3 linked regions of the Homo sapiens genome follow. The protein of the gene in region 1 interacts with the protein of each later gene in a pairwise test. Each region holds a gene or a part of one and is shown in the gene's direction. Other genes may lie near its edges.

Region 1 (3,692 bases):
ACAAAAACACCAAATAATACCTGTACATTCATTTTAAGGACAATAAACTGAATCTATGGACAGTGAGATACTTTTTTAGCAAGGTTCTTCTGCATTATGACATTGGTTAGCAAATGTTTATAAGGGCCAGGCACAGTGGCTCACACTTTGGGAGGCCAAGGCAAGAGGATGCTTGAGGCCAGAAGTTTGAGACCAGCCTGGGCAACATAGCAAGACCCCATCTCTACAAAAAGAAAAAAGATTTAATGCCAGATGTGGTGGCACATGCCTGTAGTTCCAGCTACTTAGGAGGCTGAGGCAGGAGGATCACTTCAGCCCAAGAGTTTCAGATCATGGTGAGCTGTGATTGTGCCACTGCACTCCACCCTGGGCAACAGAGCAAGATCCTGTCTCTAAAAAAATGAAAAATGTGCTCACATTGGCAGCACATCTACTAAAATTGGAACAACACAGAGAAGATTAGCACGGCCCCTGCTTAAGGATGACACGCAAATTCATGAAGTCTTCTATATCTTTAAAAATAATTAATGAAAAATGTTTATAAAACATTCAAAAATAAAAATATTAAGCATACTATGCCACATTTAAGTGAAAAAACGAATTAAAGTCAGTATTTGCATTGTGGGTTTTTGGGAGGGGTTTGTTTTTGAGGCAGCGTCTCACTTTGTTATCTAGGCTGACTGCAGTGGTGTGATCACAGCTCACTGCAGCCTCAAACTCCTGGGCTCAAGTGATCCTCCCCCCTCAGCCTCATGAGTAGCTGGGACTATAGGTACACGTTACCACGCCCAGCTAATTTTTTATTTTTTACTTTTTTTTTTTTTTCCTTTTGAGACAGAGTCTTACTCTGTCGCCCAGGCTAGAGTGCAGTGGTGTGATCTTGGCTCACTGCAACCTCTGCCTCCTGGATTCAAGTGATTCTCGTGCCTCAGCTTCCCGAGTAGCTGGGATTACAAGTGTGAGCCACCACACCTGGCTGGGTTGTTTATTTTTTTTAAGTCAGTATATATGTAGAAAAATTGTAGGGATATTATCAAAATGTTAATCCTCCATACTGGAATTATGGATAATTTTTAAATTTTCCTTGTTTGTCTATTTTCCATATTATCTACGATGAGTGTGTATTTTTTAAATAAGGAATTTTTTATTAGGCAACAATTTTTTGTTTTTTTTTGAGATGGAGTTTTACTCTTGTCACCCAGGCTAGAGTGCAATGGCGTGATCTCCGCTCACTGCAACCTCCGCCTCCCAGGTTCAAGTGCTTCTCCTGCCTCAGCCTCCCAAGTAGCTGGGATTACAGGCACCTGCCACCACGCCCAGCTAATTTTTTTTGTATTTTTAGTAGAGACGGGGGTTTTGCCATGTTGGCCAGGCTGGTCTCGAACTCCTGGCCTCAAGTGATCTGCCCGCCTCGGCTTCCCAGTGTGCTGGGATTACAAGCGTGAGCCACCATGCCCAACCTAAGCAGCAATTTTTTAAATAGTGGAGAAAAATATTGGGACCAAATTGGTTTAGTAACCTAAATGGTCTGCCGAGGTTCTCCCTAGAAGACTTGTTGCCGTAAAGGGAAAAAGAGTCTTGTTACAGTTTAGATCTAGACTACAGAGCTGGTACGGTGGCGCACACCTGTAGCCCCAGCTACGTAGGAGGTAAAGGCAAGAGGATCCCTTTTTATTTTTGTCTTTTTACTTTTTTTGAGACGGTCTTGCTGTTGCAGAGGCTGGAGTGCAGTGACACATTCATGGCTCACTGCAGCCTTGAACTTCAACCTCCCAGGCTCAAGCAGTCCTTCCACCTCAGCCTCCTGAGTAGCTGGAACTGTAGGTGAACACCACCACACCAGCTTTTTTTTGTTTTGTTTTTTGGTGGAGTTAGTTAGGGTCTCACTGTGTTGCCCAGGCTGGTCTCGAACTCCTAGGCCCAAGTGATCCTCCCACCTCAGCCTCCCAAAGTGCTGGGATTACGACTGTGAGCCACTCCACCCGTCCTTAAAATAATTAAAAAAAAAAAAAAGTCTAAGGCCACATTGCCTCAATAACCTCCCTCTTGGATTCTCTGCAGTGGGGGAGATAGCTGTCTATAAGCAGCCCTAATTTTTTTTTTTAAGGAAATTAATCGTGGACTAATAGAAAATTAATCCTGACTAATATGGGATTTTGGATCACATAAAGCTCTGTTATACAAATACTTATTACTGCCTATAATCCCAGCACTTTGAGAGGCCAAGGCAGGCAGATCATGAGGTCAGGTTTCGAGACCAGCCTGACCAACGTGGTGAAACCCTGTCTCTACTTAAAATACAAAAATTAGCCAGGCGTGGTGGCACGTGCCTGTAATCACAGCTACTCAGGAGGCTGAGGCAGGATAATCGCTTGAACCCAGGAGGTAGAGGTTGCAGTGAGCTCAGATTGCGCCACTGCACTTCAGCCTGGGTGACAGAGAGACTCCATCTTGAAAAATATATACATATACTGATCACTATTAACCTCATTGTAAGTATGTATCCTATAGTAGTGTTGTCAGGCATTTCTTTGAAAAACTTACCGGTCCCTAGGAGAAGGATATTTCAGTTCCTGTCACAGTTATGAAAAATAATCTGAGCCTGATAGAGGAATCCATTTGCCTTGAGATCTGTGCTTTCTATTCTTGGTCTTCAGGTGAAGTTTTCAAACCTGTCTCTTTTGTAGGACTTGGAAAAGGAGAGTGACACACCCCTCCAGCAAGTATCCATTGAAGAAATTCTAGAAGAACAAAGGGTGGAACAGCAGACCAAGCTGGAAGCAGAGAAGTTGAAAGTGCAGGCCCTGAAGGACCGAGGTCTTTCCATTCCTCGAGCAGATACTCTTGATGAGTACTAATCTTTTGCCCAGAGGCTGTTGGCTCTTGAAGAGTAGGGGCTGTCACTGAGTGAAAGTGACATCCTGGCCACCTCACGCATTTGATCACAGACTGTAGAGTTTTGAAAAGTCACTTTTATTTTTAATTATTTTACATATGCAACATGAAGAAATCGTGTAGGTGGGTTTTTTTTTTAATAACAAAATCACTGTTTAAAGAAACAGTGGCATAGACTCCTTCACACATCACTGTGGCACCAGCAACTACTTCTTTATATTGTTCTTCATATCCCAAATTAGAGTTTACAGGGACAGTCTTCATTTACTTGTAAATAAAATATGAATCTCAAAAGTGTCATGTTATTTCCAAGTTTGAGTTACCTGTAATGAATAGATTAATAGATTAATTAAGTTTCTGCTCTCAAAGGTATAAGCAGTCCACATACTGGGATTTCCCCCTTCAGTCACAGTTTCAAGTAGCTGGCTACTTAGGAAGGAATATTTTTATTCCAGTCATCTCAGGGGTCCTCTCCTGTTTCCATGTTTGTATCTGTTAAGAAATACAAATGTTCGGCAGGGGCGGTGGCTCATGCCTGTAATCCCAGCACTTTGGGATGCCGAGGCGGGTAGATCACCTGAGGTCGGGAGTTGAAGACCATCCTGACCAACATGGAGAAACCCTGTCTCTACTAAAAATACAAAATTACCAGGGCGTGGTGGCGCATGCTGTAATCCCAGCTACTTGAGAGGCTGAGGCAGGAGAATCACTTGAACCTGGAAGGCAGAGGTTGCGGAGAGCCAAGATTGCACCATTGCACTCCAGCCTGGGCAATGAGCGAAACTCCGTCTCAAAAA
Region 2 (7,037 bases), on another chromosome or scaffold:
TGTATCCACTCAGGGTTGAATGGATTAAAAAAAAAAAAAAAAGTGGATGGGGAACTTTACAGTGGTTGGAGCAGCCTGGCAACACCTGAACCCATTAATGAACTCTTAACACCTCTAAGAGTGGGACAACCAAGCACTGTGCTTTTTTTTTTTTTTTAAAAAAAAAAAAAAAAAAAGGAAACGAAGTCTCCCTATGTTGTCCAGGCTTGTCTCGAGCTCCTGGGCTCAAGCAGTTTTCCCATCTCTGCTTCCTAAAATGCAGGGATTACAGGCATGAGCCACCATACCTAGCTCTTCTTGGCATAATGCAATGGAAAATACACAGTTCTATCCATGACGTTTTCTCACATGTCCCTCCCACATCCTACTGAACCTGAATCAAATAAACCTGTTATTCTAACTATCTGTTTAGGAGGGAAACAGAGGATAGCAGAACCTGCTAAGTGACACTGCCAACATGCAGTTTGCCAAATTCAAACTATAGAACAAATGACCCAGTTTCTTTAACAGATAAATAACAAGAGAAAAGGGCCAGTGGCAGAAGACCTGTTAGAGAGATTTTAAAAACCTTACCAGGCAAATGCAATGTGTGGATCTTGTTTGAACCATAATTAGCACAATAATGGTTCTAATACAAAGTTCAGCTGCTAAAAGATATTTTTAAAGGCATTTGAGGGAATTTGAATTTGAAACAGATACTAGATGATATTTTAAAATTCTTTCCTGAGAAATGGTCTATGAAGAAAAATTATTGTTTATTTTGTTAGGTATGATATTGTGAGAGATTTTGTTAGAAATACAAACTGATGTATTTTGGGATGAAATGATATGATACAGAAGGAACATAGATTTAATAAGATTGGCAAAATGTTGATAATTTGGTTGATGTTGAAATTGGGTGGTGAGTACATGAATGTCATTATGCTGTTGTTTGTATTTTCATGTATGTTCTAAAATGACCATAATAAAAGCTTTTTTAATTTATAGTAGACCACAAAAAATATTTTATTCCCCATTTGCAGTTGCCATTTAAAGTAAAACCAGCCATCACTTTATACCATGTGCATTGATTGTCTGGAAGCACTCTTGATTTCCTTTGTTGTGTTATAACCTAGTTATTTATATTAATAGTTCTTTATTTTAACTTTCCAGTTGGCTACATGACAAAAAGAAATAAATGACTAGAAGGCTGGAATTCAACAGCCTTGGGTTCTGGCTCTAGCTGTGGCTATGTAACTCCAAACACTGAGTTTCTGATCACTTTATAGATTCTCTAAAAATCTATAAAAATTGGCTAATTATTTCTTTTCTTCCTCATTGAGCTTTTATAAAAATAAAAGAAAATACATTAAATCTGAAAACACTTCTTTTGAGACAGGGTGGGTCTCACCCTGTCACCCAAGCCGGAATGTGGTTGTGCAATCATAGTTCAATGTAACCTTGAACTCTTAGACTCAAGCAAACCTACCACCTCAGCCTATTGAGTAGCTGGGGACTACAGGTGAAACTTTTTTATTTGTTGTAGAGATGAGGTCTCACTACGTTGTCCAGACTAGTCTTGAACTCCTGGCCTGAAGTGATCTTCTGCTTGGCCTTTAACCTATCTTGGAGTGCTTCTCACAGTATATTGAAATGGCCAATTAACCCATATCTTCTCCGCTATACTTTAGATCCCTGAGGTTCTGTGTCCTTTTGCCATTTGTTTTTAGCCCATGGTGTAGTGTAAGCATTTAAATATTTATGGAATTAGTTAAAATATTGATGTTTTAGCATAACTCTTGGTATGTATTTGGGAGTGATTTTTTTTTACACCTTTGGTTCACACAAGTCATGGTGTTTCCAATGCAAATTGAGATGAAAAAGTTCTCAGTAGATAGCTTAGAATTCATTATTAAGACTCTAGTCATATCTGCCAGACTTGTGCCTTAAGTGGTTGAATATACAAATGAACATCCTTCCATCCATGCCCCTGGTGGGGGGTAACTGAAGTAACACGTGCCAGGATATAATGCTTTTATTTGTTTTTTGTAGGTGCTGCCATGCTTACTGAGTCCCTTCTCTCTCCTTCTCTATCATCTTCCATCAGTGAGTATCACCAGCCTTTTGCGACAGCTAATGAACCTACCTCAAAGTGCAGCTACACCAGCACTCTCCAATCCTCACCTCACTGCTGTGCTCCAGAACAAGGTGATCTTGCCCTTTTAACTCCTTGAACTTTGTGAAATGTCTTAATTTGCGTTATAGATTAAAATAATGGCTGCTGTATCTCTAGCAACTTGGGAAAAAGGCTTCTTTCAGTCAAGAGTTACATTAAGCTCCTAGTAACCGGCTAGAAATAACAGTGTTTTCAACAAAATGGGATTTTATGTGTCTAGTGTGAAATAAATTTGATTTAGTAGCTCGACAGAGTCATCAGGGATCCAGGCTTTTTCACTTTTTTTCCTCTGCCATTCTTACCAGTGGCTTCCATGTTCATTATTCCTCATGGTCCAAGATGGCTGTGGAATTCATGATTCAGCTTTACATCAAGAAGGACAGGTGGATGTGGAGGGCAAAAAGATGTGGACCAGCTGTCCATCTTCCTTATTGAGACCTTTTCCAGGAGTTCTAACCAGAAACTTCTACTTACTGTTAATAGCCAGGACATTGTCACATGGCCACACCTAAGTGCAGGGAAGGCTGGAAAATATCTTTTAGTTTATGCCATTGTCATGACACATAAGAGTTCTGATAATGGGTAGGAAGGCATATTAGGCAATTAGCAGTCTCTGTCATAACACTATGAATAGTAGAATCATCCATTTCATATTTTATTTGCATCAAGTTTAAAGATTCAGAGATTCCTAGGGGAAACATAATATGAAATAAAGAATATGAATTTTTAGTCCTTCCCTGCTACTGTCTAGCTTTGTGACCTTGGACAGATGATATCACATTGCTGAATCAGTTTCCTGGTCTATAAGATGGAGGTGATGATGTAGACTTCATAGAGTTGTCCTGGTACTTAAATGAGATAACAGTTGTAAGTGGTTCGATATAATGCCTGGTACATAGTAGTTACTCATTAAGGGCCATTCTATGTACAGTAGAGATGAAAAAGTGGTCTCAAGGCCTCTTGCTCCTTTGCACCAGAAAACCTACCAAAGCATGACTCTAAAGGTCAGTGTATCAGAGGAAGAAGAGGTGACAGTGCCTCTGGGGTTCTGGAGTGATCCGGAATGTGCCTTTCTGTTATTTGGTCTCTTAGTTTTAATTTTAGTAAAGGCAGTAGTATTTTTTTTCTGAGAATAACATGAAAAGGGATTTTTTTTTTTTAAATCAGGGTCTTCTCTGTCACCCAGGCCAGAGTGCAGTGGCAAGATCTCGGCTCACTGCAACCTCTGCCTCCTGGGCTCAAGCCATCCTCCCACCTCAGCCTCCCAAGTAGATGGGACTACAGGCACATGCCACCACGCACAACTAATTTGTGTATTTTTTGTAGAGGTGGGGTTTCGCCATGTTGTCCAGGCTGGTCTCAAACTCCTGAGCTCAAGCTATCAGCCTGCCTCGACCTCCCAAAGTGTTGGGATTACAGGTGTGAGCTACTGCAACCGGCCATGAAGGGAAATTTTGTGGAAAAGTGAGTGAGTCTAGAAAGTTGGAATGGAATCCCAAAGTACTGCCAGCCTTCCTTTTATGATCCATTTATAGGTATGAGTCATACATTTAACCTAAACCTTCTTGTCCCTATTTGTATTTTCTTTTTTGAGACAGGATCTCACTCTGTCACCCAGGCTTCAGTGCAGTGGCACAGTCACAGCTCATTGCAGCCTCAACTTTCTGTACTCAAAGCGATCCTCCCACCTCAGCCTCTTGAGTAGCATGTGCCACCATGCCTGATTGACTTTTTTTTTTTTGAGACAGAGCCTTGCTCTGTCACTCATGCTGCAGTGCAATGGCGATATCTTGTCTCACTGCAACCCCTGCCTCCCAGGTTCAAGCAGTTCTCCTGCGTCAGCCCCCAAGTAGCTGGGATTACAGGTGCCCGCCACCATACCAGGCTAATGTTTGTGTTTTTAGCAGAGACAGGGTTTTGCCATGTTGGCCAGGCTGGTCCGGGGCTCCTGACCTCACGTGATCCACCTGCCTCAGCCTCCCAAAGTGCTGGGATTACAGGTGTGAGCCACCACACCCAGCCTCCGATTGATTTTTATATTTTTTGCAGAAACAGGGTCTCACTATGTTGCTCTGGCTGGTCTCGAACTCCTGGACTCAAGCAGTACTGCCTCCACCTCCCAAAGTGCTGGAATTACAGGCATGAGCCACCATGCCCATCCCCAGCCCCCTGTTCATTTTTTTTTTTCTTTTGAGATAGAGTCTTGCTCTGTCACCCAGGCTGGAGTGCAGTGGCGCGATCGCAGCTCACTGCAAGCTCCGCCTCCTGGGTTCAAGCCATTCTCCTGCCTCAGCCTCCCGAGTAGCTGGGACTACAGGCACCCGCCACCACGCCTGGCTAATTTTTTGTATTTTTTAGTAGAGGCAGGGTTTCACCGTGTTAGCCAGGATGATCTCGATCTCCTGACCTCTTGATCCACCCGCCTTGGCCTCCCAAAGTGCTGGGATTACATGCATGAGCCACCACGCCCGTCCCATATTTTAATCCTATGCCCCAAAGACTACATTTCCTGATTTTACTGTCCACTAAATAAAACACATTTTTATATGTTACTTTTTTTTTTTTTTTTGGAGATGGAGTTTCACTCGTGTTGCCCAGGCTGGAGCGCAATGGTGCGATCTTGGCTCACTGCAACCTCCAGCTCCCGGGTTCCAACAATTCTCCTGCCTCAGCCTCCCAAGTAGCTGGGATTACAGGCATGTGCCACCGTGCCTGGCTAATTTTCTATTTTTAGTAGAGACGGAGTTTCACCATTTTGATCAGGCTGGTCTCAAACTCCTGACCTCAGGTCATCCACCCACCTTGGCCTCCCATAGTGCTGGGATTACAGGCATGAGCCACCACACCTGACCATTTTTATATATTGCATACTCTAAAGCATGTTGCTGAATTTTAATTATAGATACGGTGTATACATCTGTTTACCCTTTCTCTCTTTTTATTTTTTAGATTTTTATTAACATTCTGTCTAAGACTTTGTATTTCCAGATAGAGATGTGCTTTTTAATGGAAAGTTTCTCTTTATACCATGTTTATTTCAGTTGTGTTTATTTGTATATTTTCCTACAGTTTACACCTTGTTTCTTAATTCAAAATATCTTACTGTAATGCTTTTTTCTTATTTTTTCCTGATTTTTAATTTCTGTACCAAAATTGGTCTTCATTTACTTTCTTTTTTAGCCTATTTCTGTTCTCATAAATAGGAGAAAAGTCAAATTCTACATTATCCATGGCAAGGAAAAACCATCTTTTAACCTCAGCATGGGGAACAGAGAGGCGTGTTGGACACCATGACTTTCCGTTTCTGTTGGCTGCGCCTGGTCACTGCTATGGCAGAATAAAGCCTGGAGAGAGACATAGCCTTTCAACTCATGCTTGTCTGATCTTTACCTGGTTTTACAGAAAAGCACAGTAGTGAGGTTATTTTGATTTAGAGCTGTTCCCCATCTGATGCCAGGATCCCTTCAACAGTGGTGGAGGAGGTTTAGACACAGTGTTGAGTTTGATTCCCTCTGTCTTTTCTCGTAGTTTGGCCTGTCACTGCTCCTCATCCTCCTGAGCCGTGGTGAAGACCTACAGAGTTCAGACCCTGCTACAGAATCAACACAAAATAATCAGTGGTCAGTGTGGACTGTTTCTTCTCTTATTTTAAGTTCTTTGAGGTAATCTTTTAAATTTTTTTCTCCTGATATTATTATGGGTCTTCCCTGTCAGGACGGAGGTGATGTTCATGGCAACACGAGAACTTCTGCGGATTCCCCAAGCAGCCCTGGCCAAGCCAATCTCTATACCTACAAACCTAGTGTCCCTCTTTTCTCGCTATGTTGACCGGCAGAAACTGAACTTGCTGGAGACAAAACTGCAGTAAGTTTGAAACAGGAGAGTTTCACATCTCACTAAAGTTGGGACTTTAGAAGTTATGGTTGGGAGGCTGGGTACGGTGGCTCACACCTGTAATCCCAGCATTTTAGGACACCCAGGAGGGTGGATCACTTGAGGCCAGGAGTTCCAGACCAGCCTGACCAAAATGGTGAAACCCTGTCTCTACTAAAAAAATACGAAAATTAGCCAAGTGCGGTGGTGCATGCCTGTAATCCCAGCTATTCGGTAGGCTGAGGTATGAAAATCATTTAAACCCGGGAGACAGAGATTGCAGTGAGCTGAGATCACGCCACTGCACTCCAGCCTGGGTGACAGAGCAAGACCCTGTCTCAAAAAAAATAAATAAAAAGAAGTTATGATTGGGGTGGAGGGGGGAATAAAACTGAATTTGGTGGAAGAGATTGACTTTTTATTAACTATTTGTGTATCTGTTAGATATAAAACACTGAACTGGGTACAACAGGGCCTTCATAAAAGATGACCAAATGCTAAGGGTAGAGAAATAATCTCGGGTATTTTGTTATGAGAAGTCTTACAAAGATGTAACTGTAATATGAAAGATTGCCTTCTGTTTTAACTCATTTATACAATTTTCCTTTCTCTCCTTTGTACTCCTAGGCTAGTTCAGGGGATACGATAAAAGATCTCCAAATGTGTCCTGTACCTCCTTTTGGCTGCCACCTGCACTGCTGCCATCACCAATGGAGTGTTTTTAATGAGGGAAGGAAGGTAGCTTTTTCCCCAAAGCAAAGTCTTGTGGGATCGATTCCTGTTTACAGGGGTTGTCTCTCTAAATGTCAGATATTTCCCCACTGCTCTATGAAATTTGGCTGGGTGATACTTCTGCTGGTTTCTTTACCTTCTGTGTTACAGTTCTGCATGTCCTACTTTTACTCAGTTCTGTTTTGCATTTTCTTTGCCCTAGAGACACAAGTGTAATCTCTCCCTTTATCCCTCCACTACTCCACCTCAGAGTAGATTGTAGCCTGCCAAAGGATTC
Region 3 (7,037 bases), on another chromosome or scaffold:
ACGAAGACCAGTTGGAACTTCAGTAGAGAGAGTCTGAGTAAAACAAAAGAATAGGATTCAGATATTGAATATTATATCTAGGGTGTCATTGTTTCAGATTTCAACATTTTTAAATGCTTTGATACTGCTTTTTCCCTTTCTTGCACATTCACTATTGTTAAGTATTAGGAATGAGGAGCTGCTGTGACATTCAAGGCCTGGGAGAGTGAGCATTAGATTATAATTTGAAATCAAAGCCTGGTCCTTGCACCCCTTAGATGTATGACCCTGGGCAACGTGGGTATAAGAATAGTACATTTCTCATAGTGTCATGTGATTTAATGAGATAATGGATAGAGAGTGTTTAGCACCATGCCTGGTACACTCTAAGCACTCAATAAGTGGTATTCACTATTTTTATAAAGTTGAAGTTTGACCCATACGAAGAGACCAAAACATGGATGCTGGGGTAAAAGTGGAGGAGTAGGATGCCAGGAGAGAGAGCACTCATGACTGTCAAGCTGTCTGATCTGTGACAGATTTTTCTGAGTTACAACTAGAATTGACCTTATATCTTTGCTCTTAAGAGACAGGTATAGGTAAATGCTTCTAGGGACTTAAGTTGCAGCATCTTTAAAAAAAAAAAAAAAAGCACTCTGAATTCTTAGTTGTGGAAACTGATGGCTTCAAAGAGAGGAGAAACTGAGACAACTGCTTTTTTGTTTTAAGGATTGACATGTACGTGGAGGGGACACTGGATCTGCTGGAACTGCTTATCATGCATCCTTTCTTAAAACCAGATGATCAGCAAAAGGAAGTGGTTAACATGGCCCAGAAGGCTATAATTAGATACTTTCCTGTGTTTGAAAAGGTAGGTGGCAGAGATGCCTACATACACAGAGCAACCAAACCACAAACCACAAAGAAGCTGCCACAAACACCCTTTTCTGTCCAAGGATTTTAAAACTGAGCCCAGTTGAACTAACCTAAGCGCTAATGGACTCCTAAGAGCGAATAGTAGCCACAGCACAAAGCTGGTGTCTTAGAGCCCCTTGGACTCTGCTAGGACCACATGATTCAGAAGTCTAGAAAAAGTATGGGCTCCCTGCCTTTGTTCCTTATTGTTCCTTGCATTCACCAAGTTCCCACCTTGTGTGGATACAGCAGAAACTTCAGAAGATACAGAAAACAAAAACTACCTCATTCATTCATTCAACAAAAGTTGTCGAACAGCTGTCTCAGCTGACATCCTCCCTGATAATTCGATATGAGTAGAAGAACCATTTCCATTTTATTTATCTTCCCTTTGCTCTTTTTGTTTTTGGTTTTGTTGTTTTTCTCTTCTTGTTATATCTGCTTTTCTGAGCTTCAAATTCTTTATTCCTGAACTGGGAGGAACTTTTTTAGTGTTTCAATGCAAACACTAAAGAAGAGGGTGTGAAAATATGGGAAGACCTATTTGGCAAGCTTCCTCTGACCATCTTTATGGAACTAGATTTAGGAAAAAGGAGAGGTATTTTCTGGGGTTTCTGTAGCTAGGTTTTATGGTATCTTTCCCACAGGCACTTTGTGAATGTAAAATAGGATAATGAAGAAATGTGGTCTGGAACGGGCACAGAGGACCTGGTGCTTTGGCAAAGGTTCACTGCTCATTCTTAGGTCCCAAGGGCCCAGACTGTGTCAGGGTTTCTTGCAACACGCCTATGAGGTGAGAACCGTTGTCCCTTTTACACATAATGAAATGAAGTCATGAAGAGATTCAGTGACCTGTCCAAGGTAACATGGCCAGAAAATGGAGAGCAGGGTTGGAACTCTGGCCTCTGACTACAAATTCAGGATGCATTGTACTATGCCACTCTGGCTCCAGTAGCTATATTTGACCTGGAATTGTGTTCGGAGTCCCTGTGACACACACACTTGTGCACATGCAGACACCCATGGGCATCCAAGAGTTGACTGTGAAGGGGATCTCCCCTTTGCTACTACTGCTTCTTGCCTCTCCCTAATCACAATCTATTCTTATAAGCCCCACACCTATACGTTACCCTCAGAATGGGAGTCAAGATGAACTCAAGCTTTTCATTTTCTCTGTTTTGGGACATGTAAGAGGAAGTCTAATTTTATAATTGGGTTGAGTTTATGACTACACCTCTTGATGTTCTAGCAGCAGAACTGGGAAATAAGAGTGGGCCCCTTGAAGATGATCTATCACTTAGATTTCTTAAATCACCCTGCCCCTCCCCAAGCCTCCTGCATGCATTTCTGTAGATACATTTTTGGAGTAGATATATCCTTTCAAAACACCAGATGCTAAATCCAGAAATAAGGAATTTTCCCTTCCCCACTTCAATGTCTCATTCAGATCCACAGCAGATATTTAAGGATGCTTTCATTTCCACACCTTTTTTGTACTTTCTCTCTCTCTCTCTCGCTCTCTCTCTCTCTCTCTCCCCCTCTCTCTCACTCTCTCTGTCAGATATAGGGTGCGTTCTCTTAATTGATGTTATTTATGAAAGCATGAAATGACAAGGTCATAGTTTCACCTCTTCTCAGATACTGCACTGATTCAATAGCCTCATCACTCTCTCCATGTGGAATATTGTAACTGATGCACACCATTTCCCTACAGATTTTAAGGGGTCACGGACAAAGCTTTCTTGTTGGTAATCAGCTGAGCCTTGCAGATGTGATTTTACTCCAAACCATTTTAGCTCTAGAAGAGAAAATTCCTAATATCCTGTCTGCATTTCCTTTCCTCCAGGTAAATAAAACTATGTATTAGAAGATTGGCCTAGAACTCTTGGGCCTTCCTTCAGTGTCTATTGTTTGGTTGGCTTTGGGGAGTGTGTGTGTGTGTGTATGTGTAATATTTTTAAGATTCTAGTTTGGCAAATGAAATGAAAGTAAGGACCCAAAGTTATTTTTCTGGTCCTTAAATCCTTCAAGTTGAAAGATCATTGAAGTGTAAAATTTTTTTTTTTTAAGGTGGGATCTTACTATGTTGCCCAGAATGGTCTTGAACTCCTGGGCTCAAGAGATCCTCCCACCTCAGTCTCCTGAGTAGCAGGGACTATAGGCATGTGCCAGCACACCCAGCTCAGAAATTTTCATCTTAATTTTGTTCCATAACTGCACTCCTGGAAAAAACTCCATGCACAGGGAGTTTGCCTCAGGGGACTTTCCATAGAAATAACCATAGAGATGAGGTGGTCTCACACTCACATGTATCTACTGATGGAATAGTGGGCGAGATAAACATCAAAACAGTCTCATTCATCAGGCTATGACTCCCTTTCTCAGAAATAGTATGGTCTCAAGTTAGGAAATTCTAAGCCTGAGCTCTGAGAGCAAATGAGAGATGTTAGCACCCTAAACATCACCCCAAAGGATTCCTACCATTCTCCTTCTGAGAATTCCAAGGAAAGACTTGTGTGGTTCAAATTATCCCTCAGGGTTATTCTGGCAGGATTGATCATAGAACTTTAAAGGAGAGAAGGGCCTTTAAAAAAAAACTCATTTAATGACTTCAATATTCACTTGAGGAAGTAGAGACCCAGAATAAAGAAATCAGCAGCCAAGCTGGCTTAGGCAGTGGATGCTTGAGTTTTATCTAGAACCTTAGCCTTTTATCTCCAAGTCTAATGTGCAGACTGTAACTCCTGGGCCAAACCTGGCCTGCCACCTGTTTTTATACAGCTTGTGAGTTAAGAATAATTTTTACATTTTTAAATGGTTGAAAAAAATCTGTGGAATAATATTTCATGACACATAAAAATTATATGAAATTCAAATTCTAGTATTCATAAATTTCATTGGTACAAAGCCATGCCCACTCATTTACACAATGTCAAGGTTACTTTTGTTTTTCTACAGCAGAGTTGAGTAGATCTGATAGAGACCATATGGCCTGCAGAACTTAAAATATTTGCTGACTGGTCCTTTATGGAAAAAGCTTGCCAATCCCTGAAACAGCCTGGATACAGACCAAATTGCTATATGTTTGACCAAGTTATCAAAAGCCAAGAGAGATACACTAACTCTCCAAAGAGTAACACACATACTTAAAACAATTTTTTGCCAAGTCTATTAAATATTTTGATATACTAATGAGAGCAATTACCACCAGTTCAATAAGTACACCCAGAAAATGAGAATAAAAATCTTCAACAAGGCAATAAACCACCATATCATTTATGTTATAGTTTATATTTTTTTTTCAATTTTTTTTTCATTTACTTTTGCAGACACAGAGATTGACTTTCCTTAATTTGATTTTATTCATTCAGAACTTAGGATACTTTTCACCTGAAGTATTCTTTTGCACTGTTAAAAAAGTTACTTGTTTAGCAGAGAAGGGAAATTAGAGGAAGGGATCTGCAACTTGTTGAGTGCCAGCTTCATTCCAGTCAGTCTGCTAGGCACTTACATGCATTTGCTCATCTGTCCCGTCAACCCCACCCCAATAACCCTAGGAGATGGGCTTCACTATCTCCATTTTACAGATGAAAATTACCAGCTTGGAAACATTACATTCTGCATAGTTGCAAGACTGTGGATGACTGAGTTGGGAGCCACAGGGGAGTCAGGGATCTAAGTCTGTACTCTTTCCACTAGACTGTGTGGTTTCTGAGAAACACATTTAGAAGTACTAGAAGTACCTTTGGCCCCAAATAGGTGGGATGCTGAACCCAGAAGTAGGTAGAATGCTAAGCTTATTAAAGGTGAAATCTAGGCCGGGCGCAGTGGCTCACACCTGTAATCCCAGCACTTTGGGTGGCTGAAGTGGGTGGATCACTTAAGGTCAGGAGTTCAAGACCAGTCTGGCCAACATGGTGAAACCCCATCTCTACTAAAAATAAAACAATTAGCTGAGCATGGTGGCATGTGCCTGTAATCCCAGCTACTCGGAGGCTGAGGCAGGAGAATCACTTGAACTGGGGAGGTGGAGGTTGCAGTGAGCCGAGATCATGCCACTGCACTGCAGCCTGGGTGACAGAGCAAAACTGTGTCTCAAAAAAAAAAACAAAGTGAAATCTTTCCAGGCATGCATATATATACATGCTTGTGTACACATAGACACACACCTCACAGGCAGTAAAGTACTTTTCATTGAATGGACACAAAAGATTTTAAAAGTCTAGGGTAAATGATAGAGATCAAGGTTTTTTGGTAAACTGTAGCACCAGGACCTATTGGTATTTTACATTGATGATACTATAATAACAACCCTTTTTTAAGCCCCAAGCATTATCTGCGTAAATACAGTTTTAATCTGTGATCAGATTGAGCATCAATATTTTAAAACTTCAGAATCGGACACCAGATCTGTGTTGAATTTAAAGGGTTATTCCTGTGTTGATTAATGGATTTAAAAAGTCACAAAAATTTTACTATACTTTGATAACTATGAACCCCAGATAAATCTTGAAACAATACATCATTTGGAACAAGATTCTAAATTTTGGTATAATATTTAAAATCATACAAGTAGAGCTTAAGTACGTAATGAAAAGAGAAAATTGTCATATTTATATATAATTAATTGGCATCATTATTAGGGTTTTTGTTACTATTAGTGACGTATGTATGTTTGTGTGTGTGCTTAATTAAGGCTGTGCCTTGCACATAATAGGCAATTAATAAATAGTAGCTATTTAAAATGACCTCTTCACTTTTAAATAAATGGTTTTATTTAAATATCTTTAAAAGGTTTTATTAGAATAATTATATATGATGAGCATATGCTTCTTCATATAGTTCAGATTTTTCATTAGATCAAATGGGCTTTTCTTCTCAGTTACTGAGAATTGGTAAGATTTGATTCTGTGAATGAAAAATACAATGTTTTTCTTCCATTCCAGTTTATATAAATATCTGGTATCTGAGCCAGAGGCTATGAAAAAAATGCAACTGGCTATTTCCTGCACATAGCCAGAAAGAGGATTCACTTACTGATAGGAGTAAAAACTCTGAAGAAGCTGAATCTTAAGATATAAATTGTACCATCTAGTGACTTTTTAAAGCACCTTTACTTAAGTGGCTCATGCATTTTCTCCCAGCAGATCAGTGCACTTCAGGTGGCTAGTCCGAGTGGTGTTTACAGCTAATTGATCACAACCAGTTACAGATTTCTTTGTTCCTTCCCCACTCCCACTGCTTCAAATTGACTACTGTTAAAAAACAATACAAAACAATACACTGGAGGTGTTTTCAGTGAGTTTTCCCCTTCCTTTTTTTTCACCTTAAGTGTCATAATTCTATTTTGAGTATGTTTTTACTTTTGCCATTTCTGTAAAGAGTGCTTACCTTTTTGTGAACCTGGAGATTTGTGTAAACTCTGATCTTGATACCGGTGATTGATGACAGAGATTGTAAATAATCATAGAGATCAGATCTTAACCTAGCCTTGTCCAACCCACAGCCCGCGGGCTGCATGTGGCTCAGGACAACTTTGAATGTGGCCTAACATAAATTCATAAACTTTCTTATAACATTATGAGATATTTTGAGGTTTTTTTTTCAGCTCATTAGCTACCTTTAGTGTTAGTGTATTTTATGTGTGGCCCAGTGAAGCCAAAAGATTGGACACCCCTGCTAAACAAATGCTAAATTTCATTTCTGCTTGGAACTCTTCAACAAGTATTTATTGAACAAATTTTGGTGGGCCATTTTGCATAACCATATCTTCGTAGTATCTAATACCTTTTTTGTTAGCCTTAAAGTTTTGGTTTTCCTTTTTCAGGAATACACAGTGAAACTAAGTAATATCCCTACAATTAAGAGATTCCTTGAACCTGGCAGCAAGAAGAAGCCTCCCCCTGATGAAATTTATGTGAGAACCGTCTACAACATCTTTAGGCCATAAAACAACACATCCATGTGTGAGTGACAGTGTGTTCCTAGAGATGGTATTGTCTACAGTCATGTCTTAATGGATCCCAGCTCTGTCATGGTGCTATCTATGTATTAAGTTGGGTCCTAAGTTGGGTCTTTTGTGTCAACGAGATCATCTCTTCTAGAAATATCAACCTTTTTTGTCCAGTAAATAATTGTTAGGG

Evidence for each region. Proteins that work in one complex are often made in the same cells at the same time.
Region 2: the proteins of LSM1 (region 1) and PATL1 interact in binary tests that used the Homo sapiens proteins (3 or more experiments, as listed by UniProt).
Region 3: the proteins of LSM1 (region 1) and GSTA4 interact in binary tests that used the Homo sapiens proteins (3 or more experiments, as listed by UniProt).

The regions. Positions count from the first base shown.
Region 1 is NC_000008.11:38,162,836-38,166,527, reverse strand, and holds the end of LSM1 (U6 snRNA-associated Sm-like protein LSm1), read left to right. Parts: intron 1-2,687; coding exon 2,688-2,858; 3' UTR 2,859-3,189; downstream 3,190-3,692. UniProt on the Homo sapiens protein: Plays a role in the degradation of histone mRNAs, the only eukaryotic mRNAs that are not polyadenylated. Probably also part of an LSm subunits-containing complex involved in the general process of mRNA degradation.
Region 2 is NC_000011.10:59,638,030-59,645,066, reverse strand, and holds part of PATL1 (protein PAT1 homolog 1), read left to right. Parts: intron 1-2,031; coding exon 2,032-2,187; intron 2,188-5,683; coding exon 5,684-5,775; intron 5,776-5,869; coding exon 5,870-6,019; intron 6,020-6,655; coding exon 6,656-6,677; 3' UTR 6,678-7,037. UniProt on the Homo sapiens protein: RNA-binding protein involved in deadenylation-dependent decapping of mRNAs, leading to the degradation of mRNAs. Acts as a scaffold protein that connects deadenylation and decapping machinery.
Region 3 is NC_000006.12:52,978,277-52,985,313, reverse strand, and holds part of GSTA4 (glutathione S-transferase A4), read left to right. Parts: intron 1-708; coding exon 709-850; intron 851-2,608; coding exon 2,609-2,740; intron 2,741-6,721; coding exon 6,722-6,844; 3' UTR 6,845-7,037. UniProt on the Homo sapiens protein: Conjugation of reduced glutathione to a wide number of exogenous and endogenous hydrophobic electrophiles. This isozyme has a high catalytic efficiency with 4-hydroxyalkenals such as 4-hydroxynonenal (4-HNE).